3 linked regions of the Homo sapiens genome follow. The gene in region 2 interacts genetically with the main gene of each other region. Each region holds a gene or a part of one and is shown on either strand. Other genes may lie near its edges. The genes, in order: ATM, MAP3K4 and TOP2A.

Region 1 (3,654 bases), on a different chromosome or scaffold from region 2:
TAAACTGGATTCAGAACTAGAATACTTGGTACTGTTTATATTCCAAAAAATCTAAGGAAGACAAATGTGATCTGAGTGTGACTGTGATCTTGATTCCTGAGAAGTCAGTGTACAATAAAATGAAGTAATTGCTTTTCCCCATAGGCCAAAAGTAATATTTAGTGTATACTACAGCAGAGATTGACTGTATCTATTATGAGTCTTATTATTTTCCTGCAGGAGAAACATTTTATCTCTAACCTTCAAATTGACTAACAATATATAGCTTGTCAACTTAAATTTAATATTAGGTGTCATCACTATAATCTAAGGTTTTCAAAGAAAAACTTATACAATACTGCTGTCTTGACATTTTCTGAAAAATATATTTTCTCTACTTACAAAAGTAATTTATTGTAAAAATCCCATATTTCTGCAGCAGGGGGAAAACCCACCTGTGATCACATCATCTTTAACTGCTTTCTAAATCCTCCAATCTAATGCCCCATTCTAGACCCTCTCCTATGGTAACTGCAAAGACATAGGACCAAGCTAAATTCTATCACCTCCACACAAACTTGCATCATTTACAGCTTGTCAGCTTATATAATACAAAGGAACTTTTGTAGAAACAAGACTAGAACTTGTAAATAATCCTAAATATGGATCAAAGTTTAGAAAACTACAAAATGCTACTTATGTGTAGAGCACTGGACCAAGTGCTAGGAATACAAAGAGGTATACACGATTCCTGACATCAAGGGGCTTATGTCTAAGTTTTTCAAGCACAGGGTAGAATATTGGGCTGAGTAACACTTGCCTTCATCATGCCATTGACTTCAGAAACTCCAGAATTTTCAAGCCAGAGGGAACAAAGTCGGAATACCCACATATCATGTTCTTCTCCACTTAATAAGCAGTTGATATAATTTTCAACTGCTTTACATAAGAAGCGTTTACGATCCTCTTTCAGTGCACGCAGGGCTAATTCATCCAACTCCAGCTCTCGCTGAACCTTTACTGTGTATCTTGCATAGAATAATTAAGGTAAAACACAAAAGCCATGAACTTTAACAGAACTACAAAATCACACATGATATACAACATTTAATGAAAAAAGTTGGGTTTTTATCCCAGGGAAAAAAGCAAACTTCTAAGGATTATAAAGGGAATAAACTTACTTTTGTCTTAACTGTGCAATTCACACACCTTCCTAAGCATCAAAGGACAAAGGGGACTCTCCCCAAGCTATTTAGCTAACTTACACCTCTGCTTACACTAAAATATACAGATTCAAGACAGGCTTAAATAAAGGGATTTAATTACATCAAAATAGGTAACTTTTGTAATTAATTTCAATATCTATCTCCTTTTCCACTATGATACCAACAAACAAACCAAAAAAGCAAAACAGAAAGCTAATATCTATATTCTCCACAATGAACTTAGAAGCAGAGCATGAATTATTCACAAAAGAACACGTCAATATCTTACATACTAATTTGTGATTAACTACAGTAGGACCAAGACAGACAGGGCACAGTGCCTCACACCTGTAATCCCAGCACTTTGGGCGGCCAAGGTGGGCAGATCGTTTGAGCCCATGAGTTTGAGACCAACCTGGGCAACATGGCAAAACCCCATCTCTACAAAAAATACAAAAATTAGCCAGGTATGGCGTGCACCTGTAGCCCCAGCTATTTCGGGGGCTCAGGGGGAGAATCAATTGAGTCCAGGAGGTCGAGGTTGCAGTGAGCTGGAGTACAGTGATCACGCCACTGTACTCCAGCCTGGGTGACAGAGTGAGACCTTGTCTCAAAAAAAAAAACAAAAAACAAAAACCGAAAAGAACCCAAAAGACCAAGATAATCTATATATAGTTAAGCCGACCTTTAGAGCTCAAAACTATATCAGATAAAAAGACCAAGTCACTCTTTCTATGCAAAAACACTCACTCAGTTAACTGGTGAACATAAAATTGTCACTTGTAGAAACCTAGTTACCTGTTTGTCTGAATTTTATGTTCCCTAAGGAGACCTACTTCCTCTTTGGCTCTTTTCAGGAGAGCTTGCTTGTTTTCAAATTCCGATGATTTCATGTAGTTTTCAATTCTTTGGTATTGAGTATCTGAAAACCGGGCTAATGAGAGAAATGCCTTCATTTTTCCATTTCTTAGCTCATCACTACTTTCTCCATCATAATTTCCAGCAACTTCTACTGCCTTCAAGAAAACACAACCAATTTAAATTATATTTACAAATACTAAATACATCTAAAGAATCACTCAAATTAAGGTAATACACTAAAATTTAACTTATATACATATAAAAGCTAGCTAAATTATATGAACTATTGCAAACTTGTCCAACCCACGGCCCATGGGCCGCATGTGGCCCAGGACGGCTTTGAATGTGGCCCAACACAAATTCGTACATTTTCTTAAAACATTATGAGATTTCTTTTGTGATTTTTTTTAAGCTCATTAGCTATCATTAATGTTAGTATATTTTATGTGTGGCCCAAGGCAATTCTTCTTGCAATGTGGCCCAGGGAAGCCAAAAGATTGGACAGCCCTGAACTATGGTATTTTCTTGACTTTTCAAAACAACTTTGACAGTGTAGAAATAACCCAGACAGCTAATACTTGTAAAGAACTCTGCAAAAACAGAGAACTTTATAAAATTTAAAGACAATCAGGCTGGGTGTGGTGGCTCAAGCCTGTAATGCCAGCACTTTGGGAGGCCGAGGCAGGTGGATCACTTGAGGTCAGGAGTTCGAGACCAGACTGGCCAATGTGGCGAAACCGTCTCTACTAAAAATAAAAAATATTAGCCGGGTGTGGTGGCACACTCCTGTAGTCCCAGCTACTTGGGAAGCTGAGGCAGGAGAATCGCTTGAACCCAGGAGGCAGAGGTTGCAGTGAGCCGAGATTGCGCCACTGCACTCCAGCTTGGGCGACAGAGAGAGACTTCATCTCAAAGAAAAGAAAAGAAAAGAAAGACAATCGCATCATGTGTTTCATGTTACACTTATTTAGTGAGGTAACTATTTCCAAAATTAGTGAATCTAAAGGAATAAGAGGGAGAAACAGGAAAGTCAAAGGGGCTAGTATATTGAAGCCTTTACTTGTGGGTGGCTGGGCTAATGAAGAGCAAGGGCTGACTTGCCTATTCTTAATCAGTTATTTTTGTAGATGCATAAATGAAGAAATGATCAGAAGCAACCTGCTGAAAGGGTAGCTGGTAGTGGAGGTAGGAAGGAGGAAGAAGAGATACTATACTTGGGCTTACTTTCAAAATTGGCTGCTTTGTTTTGTAACAATGTTTCACTCCACCCTAGAGACTATACAGAGCTACAACAGTAATAATATATAGAAAAATAAAACCATACTTTTATTTGCTTTGGAAATATATTGATCTTGATGAAAAGATGAAGCATATTCATGCTAAGTAACTATCTTAAGGGTTGCTCCAAAAATCTTACCTTTTCTAGATAGGTCTGCATGATGACCGCAGGATTTTCTAAGCACGTTTCTGCTAACCAGTTGCCACAAACCCTCAGACATTCTGTGTATGTAAGTTTTAGGCTGGGATTGTTCTGTATAAGAAAGGCAAAATCTTAAAATATAATGCATTACCATGACTGTACCCAACTGCCCTTCATGTACGGGGAAAA
Region 2 (3,654 bases):
TTATATCTTTTTTCTATGCACATACTTTTTAAAATGCGATCACACTGAGTATTAGGGTTTTAAGAAGTTTAACTCAAATTAATAGTTTAAGCACAAATAGAGATTAGCTCACATCAAATCAGGAGAAAAATAGGGACAAATCTAGCACAAAAGGGCAACTGGCTGACAGTGTGGTGGTGCGCACCTGTAGTACCACCTACTTGGGAGGCCAAGGCAAAAGAATTCTTTGAGACCAGAAGTTTGAATCCAGCCTGGGTAACATACAGAGACTGCCATCTCTTTATTTATTTTTATTTATTTATTTATTTTAAAGGCAACTGGCCATAGACCTCTTTCAGCCTCTCTGCTTTTCTCTGGGGATTAACATCACTCTCTGAGACCAGGTCCTCTGTAGGAGCTTCAGGAAGCTAGCTCTAGGCTCATGAATTCTCAGCCTATACTTCAGTAAAATGCGCGTTTCTCTCTCCCAGCTCCAATTTGAAAAATCCCAGGAAAGAATCCTAATTGGCCTGGACTGGGTCAAGTGTCATGCCTATGGCCTGGCATCTGTAAGAAGAGGGCAGCTCCAATATGTACCATGTAGTTTGAGTCAAGAGAGGAATTCCCCCAAATAAGGTAGAAGGAAGACAGTGAAGTAGGGCAGACACAGCCGGTGGACAAATATGTGTATGAGATGAAAAACTACCTCAAATTTTGGCTCCCATCTTCTGCAAATTCTGTTTCATAGTCTGTTTGTTCTTGCTGAACACAGCGGTGAGTATGTATACATCAGAAATACTTGAGAATCTTCTTAAGAAGAGCTACTCAGGTACCACCCCAAAAGGAGTTGTATCATGAGCATCTTCACATGTCACTAAACACTATTTAAAAACAGTTTTTAATAACTGGATAGAATTCTGATGTGGTTCTGATTTTTTAAAATTTAATTTTATGACTTAAATCCAGAAAAGCCAGATACCATCATGATCCTTTTTGAACACAATATTCAAAAAGAATTTTATGAAAGCACCAACCACTGACATCTTTGCCACATTGTTCTGAGAAACTATGCTAAAGGATTCTTGGCGAGGGGTGGTGGGACAGAGATTATGGGGAGAATACTGGGTGGGGGATGGAGACAATAAGGTGATCCTCTGAGACTCACCATTAGTAAAAATGTACCGTACCACTGAGGTTTAAAAAAAGAAATCTTAAAGTGAGAAGGATAAAATATACTCCCAAATTAAAGCAGGAAAAGCAAGGTTTGTTATAAAGACTGAAGATTAAAACAAACATACTATAACCCAAACAATTTAGGAAAGTTTGTGACACAAGGGAAAAAAGCAGCCTGTGTGATGCCTAGAAAATAAAAACCTAAGAGTAAGTCTGGATCACACTGCCTCTCATTCAGAAGCAGGGGTGCACCTGCTAGGGATGCAAGCCCACCTCACTGGTCTGCTAACATGAGTCACCGGGATCATTCAACTCATTTCCCTTGCTAATATCATGCTTACTAATCAATCTCTTAATTATACTTTGGCTTTCTACAAGCAAGAGAATACACTGACTAACCAGGTGTACAGACAAAGCTGAGTATCTGTGCCTGAGAAGCCAAGCACAGTGAGTGTCTGGGCCTTGATTATCGTGCCAAGGGAGTGCCAGCTTATGAAGACCTACGGAGTCTTCAGCTAATCTCCTTCTCTCACGTTTTCCATTTTCTCTTTAAAGAAACCACTACCAGTAGCCTACTGATAGGCAACGTTAAAGAGTCTTCAAACAGCATACATACTACCTGGTCAAATGACAAGGCTGAGACAATAGAATGCTATGAGTAAAATCATAGTCATGAGGAATGAGGAATTATTAAATAACAGGAAGTTATTACAACAAATGTATCCAGTGAGCAGGCAAGACCTTTATATCCCCGTATTTCAGCAGAGCTCAGAACAAGATTTGCAGGACACCATGAGAGCATACATGAAGGAAACAGAGTGGCCTCTAACAATGACAGAAAATTAAAGGGAACTACAAAGTCCTCCTAAGTGACAAGTCCCCAGTTGAAAACATGAAGTTTCTGCCATCACTGCTGTTTGGTGACTCCTCTCTGCCTAACGCCACCCCCGCCAATGGCATCTACTGTTACAGTGGTGTAAAGGCATGACCATCACTGATGCTACACCAACAGTCTGGAGCACCACAGGAGGCTGACTTTGCCAGGGAGAACAGTTGACATACAAGGTCAAGACTGAAACACACAGGCTCAAGGTGGACATTCAAGCCGAGAGGCAGAGCAAATTGCCTAGGAGTGACGACATTCAACTAGTTTTTTAGTAGGAAATCCAGTTTTTCAAATGAATTTACAATAAATATATAAAGTAAATAATTCATTTTTTAAAAAAAGTTAATTGTTAAATTTATGCAGCATGTACTCATAAGGACAATGAGAACAATGAGGCTATTTTTAATATAAATATTTTAAATGAAAGGTTATAGTAAACAAGAGCATTATATCAGCCTTAATATCCAATTTATTCTGTGTTTTAGGTGTACAGATCCAATAAGTCACAAAGGTAAATTGTTCCAAATTAGTTTTAATAGCTCTCCTAGTCACCTCAGGATCCTCCTAAAACTGCCCCAGAAGCTTGAAAAAGAAATGATAAGCAATGTTTATTTCAAAATTTAATCACTAACAATAACAACAGCTATCCTTATCATGAATTCTTTATCAAAAATAAGGACAAAAGTATCCACAACTGACAGCAAGCAATAAAACTGGAATAGAGTACTATGACCTCTCTGCCTGTTTTGTGTTGCTGGGTCACTGCATAACACTCTTGGGTCAGGAGGAAAGCACACACTAGGCAGATGTGCTGGGCTGGCTGCACCTGCCACGATGGCACACTTGCTGCACAGCTTTGGAGGCCAACATGTACAGGCCTGAATTCTACAAAAGGCCTGTGCATTAACACAACCTTCCTAATCAATGACACACAGACATAAAGTATGTGACAAAGATGGCAAACAGAGTTTTATTCTAGTCTGTGGCAAAACCAGTTAACCTGGTAGCATAAATTATCACATTATTGGTTTCCAATGTATTAAAAGGTGGCATTTCACACATTTTCAACAAACATAAGAAAAAATGCTCAACATCACTAATTATCAGGGAAATGCAAATTAAAACCACAATGAGATACCACCTTACTCCTGCAAGAATGGCCATAATTTAAAAATAATAATTAAAAAAATAGACAATGGCATGGATGTGGTGAGAAGGGAACTCTTATACACTGCTGGTGGGAATGTAAACTAGTACAACTACTGTGGAAAACAATATGGAGATTCCTTAAAAAACTGGCCAGGCGCAGTGGCTCACGCCTGTAATCCCAACACTTTGGGAGGCCAAGATGGGCGGATCACGAGGTCAGGAGTTCAAGACAAGCCTGACCAACTTGGTGAAACCTTGTCTCTACTAAAAATACAAAAATGAGCTGGACCTGGTGGCAGGCACCTATAATCCCAGCTACCCGGGAGGCTGAGGCAGGAGAATTGCTCGAACTCGGGAGGCAGAGGTTGCAGCGAGCTGAGATCACGCCACTGCACTCCAGCCTGGGCAACAGAGAAAGACTCTGTCTCAAAAAAAACTAAAAAAACCTAAAAACTAAAAGTAGAACT
Region 3 (3,654 bases), on a different chromosome or scaffold from region 2:
TCCTCAATTTAACCAATTTTGGAATTTGATTTCCATCTTACAATGAAAACAGACTAACAAATTGGAACTCACCATCCACCATAGAAGGGATAGATCTCTCGTTATCAGAATTTGAGAACAAGATAAGTTCCTTGTTGATGAAGTCATTATATGTCAGATATGTGGTAGTTTGTCCATACAAGTAATCCTGAAGGACCAAATAGTATTACATGAGTCTACCGGTCTAAACAATGCTCAACACAAAAATCAAACAGAAACCTTTCAGAACTAAGAATTATTTCTGTAATTCTTAAGTCTTTAAAAAATATTGAATAATACAGAAATATTTTATATGTTTTAAAGATAAAGCAAATTTAACTGCTGCACAACTCTATCATATCAAATTTTTTACTAAAATAACTATTCAGTAAGTTTAATTTGCTATAGTATCAATACCAAAAGGTCAGTCTAACAATCCATTTTGTGGCATATATTTAAAACTTTTACCTCAGGAAGCCCAAGTAACTTTCGTTGTCTTCTATCCTCCATGAAATTAGTTAACCATTCCTTTCGATCATCTATCTGTTTTTTGCTAAAGGCCTATAAATTAAAGGATGAAAAGATGTCACTGGTACTAATAGGCTAATAGGTTCCAAAATATCCTTCTACAAAGAACGAACAACAGAAAAACAAAAATACTGTTTTCCTTTTTTTTTTTTTTTGAGACGGGAGTTACTGTTCTCTTGCCCAGCCTGGAGTGCAATGGTGTCATCTTGGCTCACTGCAACCTCTGCGTCCTAGGTTCAAGCGATTCTCCTGCCTCAGCCTCCTGAGCCCCTGGGATTAAAGGCGCCCGCCACCACGCCCAGCTAATTTTTGTATTTTTTTTTTTTTGAAATGGAGTTTCACTCTTGTGGAATGTGATGGCACGATTTCGGCTCCCACAACCTCCACTTCCCAAGTTCAAGTGATTCTCCTGCCTCAGCCTCCCGTGTAGCTGGGATTACAGGCACGTGCCACCACACCCAGCTAATATTTTGTATTTTTAGTAGAGATGGGGTTTCACCATGTTGGTCAGGCTGGTCTTGAACTCCCGAGCTCAGGTGATCCACCCGCCTCGGCCTCCCAAAGTGCTATGATTACTGGTGTGAGCCACTGCGCCCGACCTTTTTTGTTTTTTTTTTTTTTTGAGACAGAGTCTCGCTCTGTCGCCCAGGCTGGAGTGCAGTGGCACCATCTCAGCTCACTGCAAGCTCCGCCTCCTGGGTTCACGCCATTCTCCTGCCTCAGCCTCCGGAGTAGCTGGGATTACAGGCGCGTGTCACCAAGCCCGGCTAATTTTTTATTTTTTATTTTTTTTTATTTTTAGTAGAGACGGGGTTTCACCGTGTTAGCCAGGATGGTCTCCATCTCATGACGTTGTGATCTGCCCGACTTAGCCTTCCAAAGTACTGGCATTACAGGCGTGAGCCACCACGCCTGGCCTTTTTCCTTTTTTTTTGAGATGGAGTCTCACTCTGTTGCCCAGGCTGGAGAGCAGTGGCCTGATCTCGGCTCACTGCAACCTCTGCCTCTCGGGTTCAAGCGATTCTCCTGCCTCAGCTTCCCAAGTAGCTGGGACTATAGCTGCGTGCCACCACGGCCGGCTAATTTTTTGTATTTTTAGCAGAGATGGGGTTTCACCTTGTTAGCCAGGATGGTCTTGATCTCCTGACCTTGTGATCTGCTCGCCTCTGCCTCCCAAAGTGCTGGGATTACAGGCGTGAGCCACTACGCTCGGCCAATTTTCGTATTTTTAGTAGAGAGGGGGTTTCACCATGTTGGACAGGTTGGTCTCCAACTCTTGATCTCAGGTGATCCACCTGCCTTGGCCTCCCAAAGTCCTAGAATTATAGGCATGAGCCACCAAGCCCAGCCAAAAATCAAAATTTTCTAAAATATCTGATTCCTTCTCTGGGATATGCTTACTGGAAACATTCTATTCTATAAAACATTCTTTTTTTTTTGATACGGAGTCTTATACAAAAATGTAAATGTTTCAACTGGCTAAAGTAGTGATTTCTAAAATTAGAATGTATATAAAATACAACTCAAACCTACCAGGCTGATAGCAGCATCATCTTCAGGACCAGAATATTTGAACTGGATACGATGTCTTTTCATATCTGCAAAGTATTCTTTAGCTTCCTTTGATGTGCTGGTGCCCAAACCTATAAAACCAAAAATACCAAGTTCCTTCATATAGTCTTGTACAGGGTGTATAATAAAATGAGAAGTTCTATATGGGTTTCATTACAAACCTTTGTAATATTTGACTTTCCATTTTTTATGATTTGGAGTAGAACTCTTCCACTCTTCAAATTCAGGAAGGCTGTAAAATGCCATTTCTTGCTTGTTTTTAGATACCTGTGATAAAAAACAATGACTGTGGCTTTGTACACTGTGGGGTCCCCTGTATACCACTACATGTGACGGGGCTTATATGTATATCCAGGTTTGAGGAGTAGGGTCTTAAAATATCCATGATGGTACTTAGAAATTAGCGTACCTTTACAATGGGAGTGATAAATTCCTCCAGAAAACGATGTCGCAGAAGAGAGGGCCAGTTGTGATGGATAAAATTAATCAGCAAGCCTTTGATGTGGGAACCATCTTGGTCCTAGAAAGATTTGAAAGCCAAAGTTCAAAAGAACTGTTAGGCTGGGCGTGGTAGCTAACATCTGTAATCCCAGAACTTTGGGAGGCCGAGGCAGGCGGATCGCCTGAGGTCAGGCGTTCGAGACCAGCCTGGCCAACATGGTGAAACCCTGTCTCCACTAAAAATACAAAAATTAGTTGGGTGTGGTGGCATCCGCCTGCAATCCCAGCTACTCGGGAGGCTGAGGCAGGAGAATCGCTTGAACCCATGAGGCGGAGGTTGCAGTGAGCCAAGATTGCACCATTGCACTCCAGCCTGGGCGACAAGGGCGAAACTCCATCTCAAACAAACAAAGAATTGTTTAGAAATAAAAAAATATTATGACTGACCTACTGGCAATTTGTCAAATTTTCTATGGGAATCAAAAAAGGTCTGTTCAAATCCAGACTCACTTAACCTGTATTTGCAACATACATATGATATAAGCATATCTGATTAGATGTTGATTAGAGATGATGAATAAAGCTCCTATTTAACTAATTTATTTTCATGGCAAAAAACAATGAAATTAAATTAAGACATGCTTAATTTAGTTGAACAATCTAAAAATTTAATAACAAATCTGACCTGATCTGTCATAATCATTATCTTCCCATAACGAAGCGTCTTCAATGAATCTTCATCTTCATAGTTTTTCTTGTACTGAAGACCCACAATCTTGATGATATTGTTAATCTCAGCATTTTCCATGATCTGAAATGGACATATACCAAAAAAAGCATCGTTTATAAATTTGAAAAGAACAAAGAAATTTAACAGTATATGTTGCTTGGATTTTCTTGAGCTCCAGTATTTTGAGCTATTAGCTTATAATTTACTACATCAGAAAGGTCTGTTAAAATAGGCTACAATGTACCTAATTTCTCAAAATAAGCACAAATTGTCTAAAATATATTTTAAAATGCCTAATGAGGGAATTAAATATAAGCATAAAGTCTTGTATTATAAATTAGATTTAGATTCTGAAGATCGTCTTA

What was found.
Region 1: changes in MAP3K4 (region 2) and ATM together harm fitness more than expected from each alone (negative genetic interaction), as found in Homo sapiens cells (one large-scale study listed by BioGRID).
Region 3: changes in MAP3K4 (region 2) and TOP2A are lethal when combined (synthetic lethality), as found in Homo sapiens cells (one large-scale study listed by BioGRID).

Annotation. Positions count from the first base shown.
Region 1 is NC_000011.10:108,327,567-108,331,220, reverse strand, and holds part of ATM (serine-protein kinase ATM), read right to left. Parts: intron 3,577-3,654; coding exon 3,463-3,576; intron 2,201-3,462; coding exon 1,983-2,200; intron 1,008-1,982; coding exon 800-1,007; intron 23-799; exon of another isoform or gene 1-22.
Region 2 is NC_000006.12:160,994,680-160,998,333, reverse strand, and holds part of MAP3K4 (mitogen-activated protein kinase kinase kinase 4), read right to left. Parts: intron 1-3,654. UniProt on the Homo sapiens protein: Component of a protein kinase signal transduction cascade. Activates the CSBP2, P38 and JNK MAPK pathways, but not the ERK pathway. Specifically phosphorylates and activates MAP2K4 and MAP2K6.
Region 3 is NC_000017.11:40,404,305-40,407,958, forward strand, and holds part of TOP2A (DNA topoisomerase 2-alpha), read right to left. Parts: intron 3,371-3,654; coding exon 3,245-3,370; intron 2,639-3,244; coding exon 2,528-2,638; intron 2,386-2,527; coding exon 2,280-2,385; intron 2,190-2,279; coding exon 2,080-2,189; intron 580-2,079; coding exon 487-579; intron 188-486; coding exon 73-187; intron 1-72. UniProt on the Homo sapiens protein: Key decatenating enzyme that alters DNA topology by binding to two double-stranded DNA molecules, generating a double-stranded break in one of the strands, passing the intact strand through the broken strand, and religating the broken strand.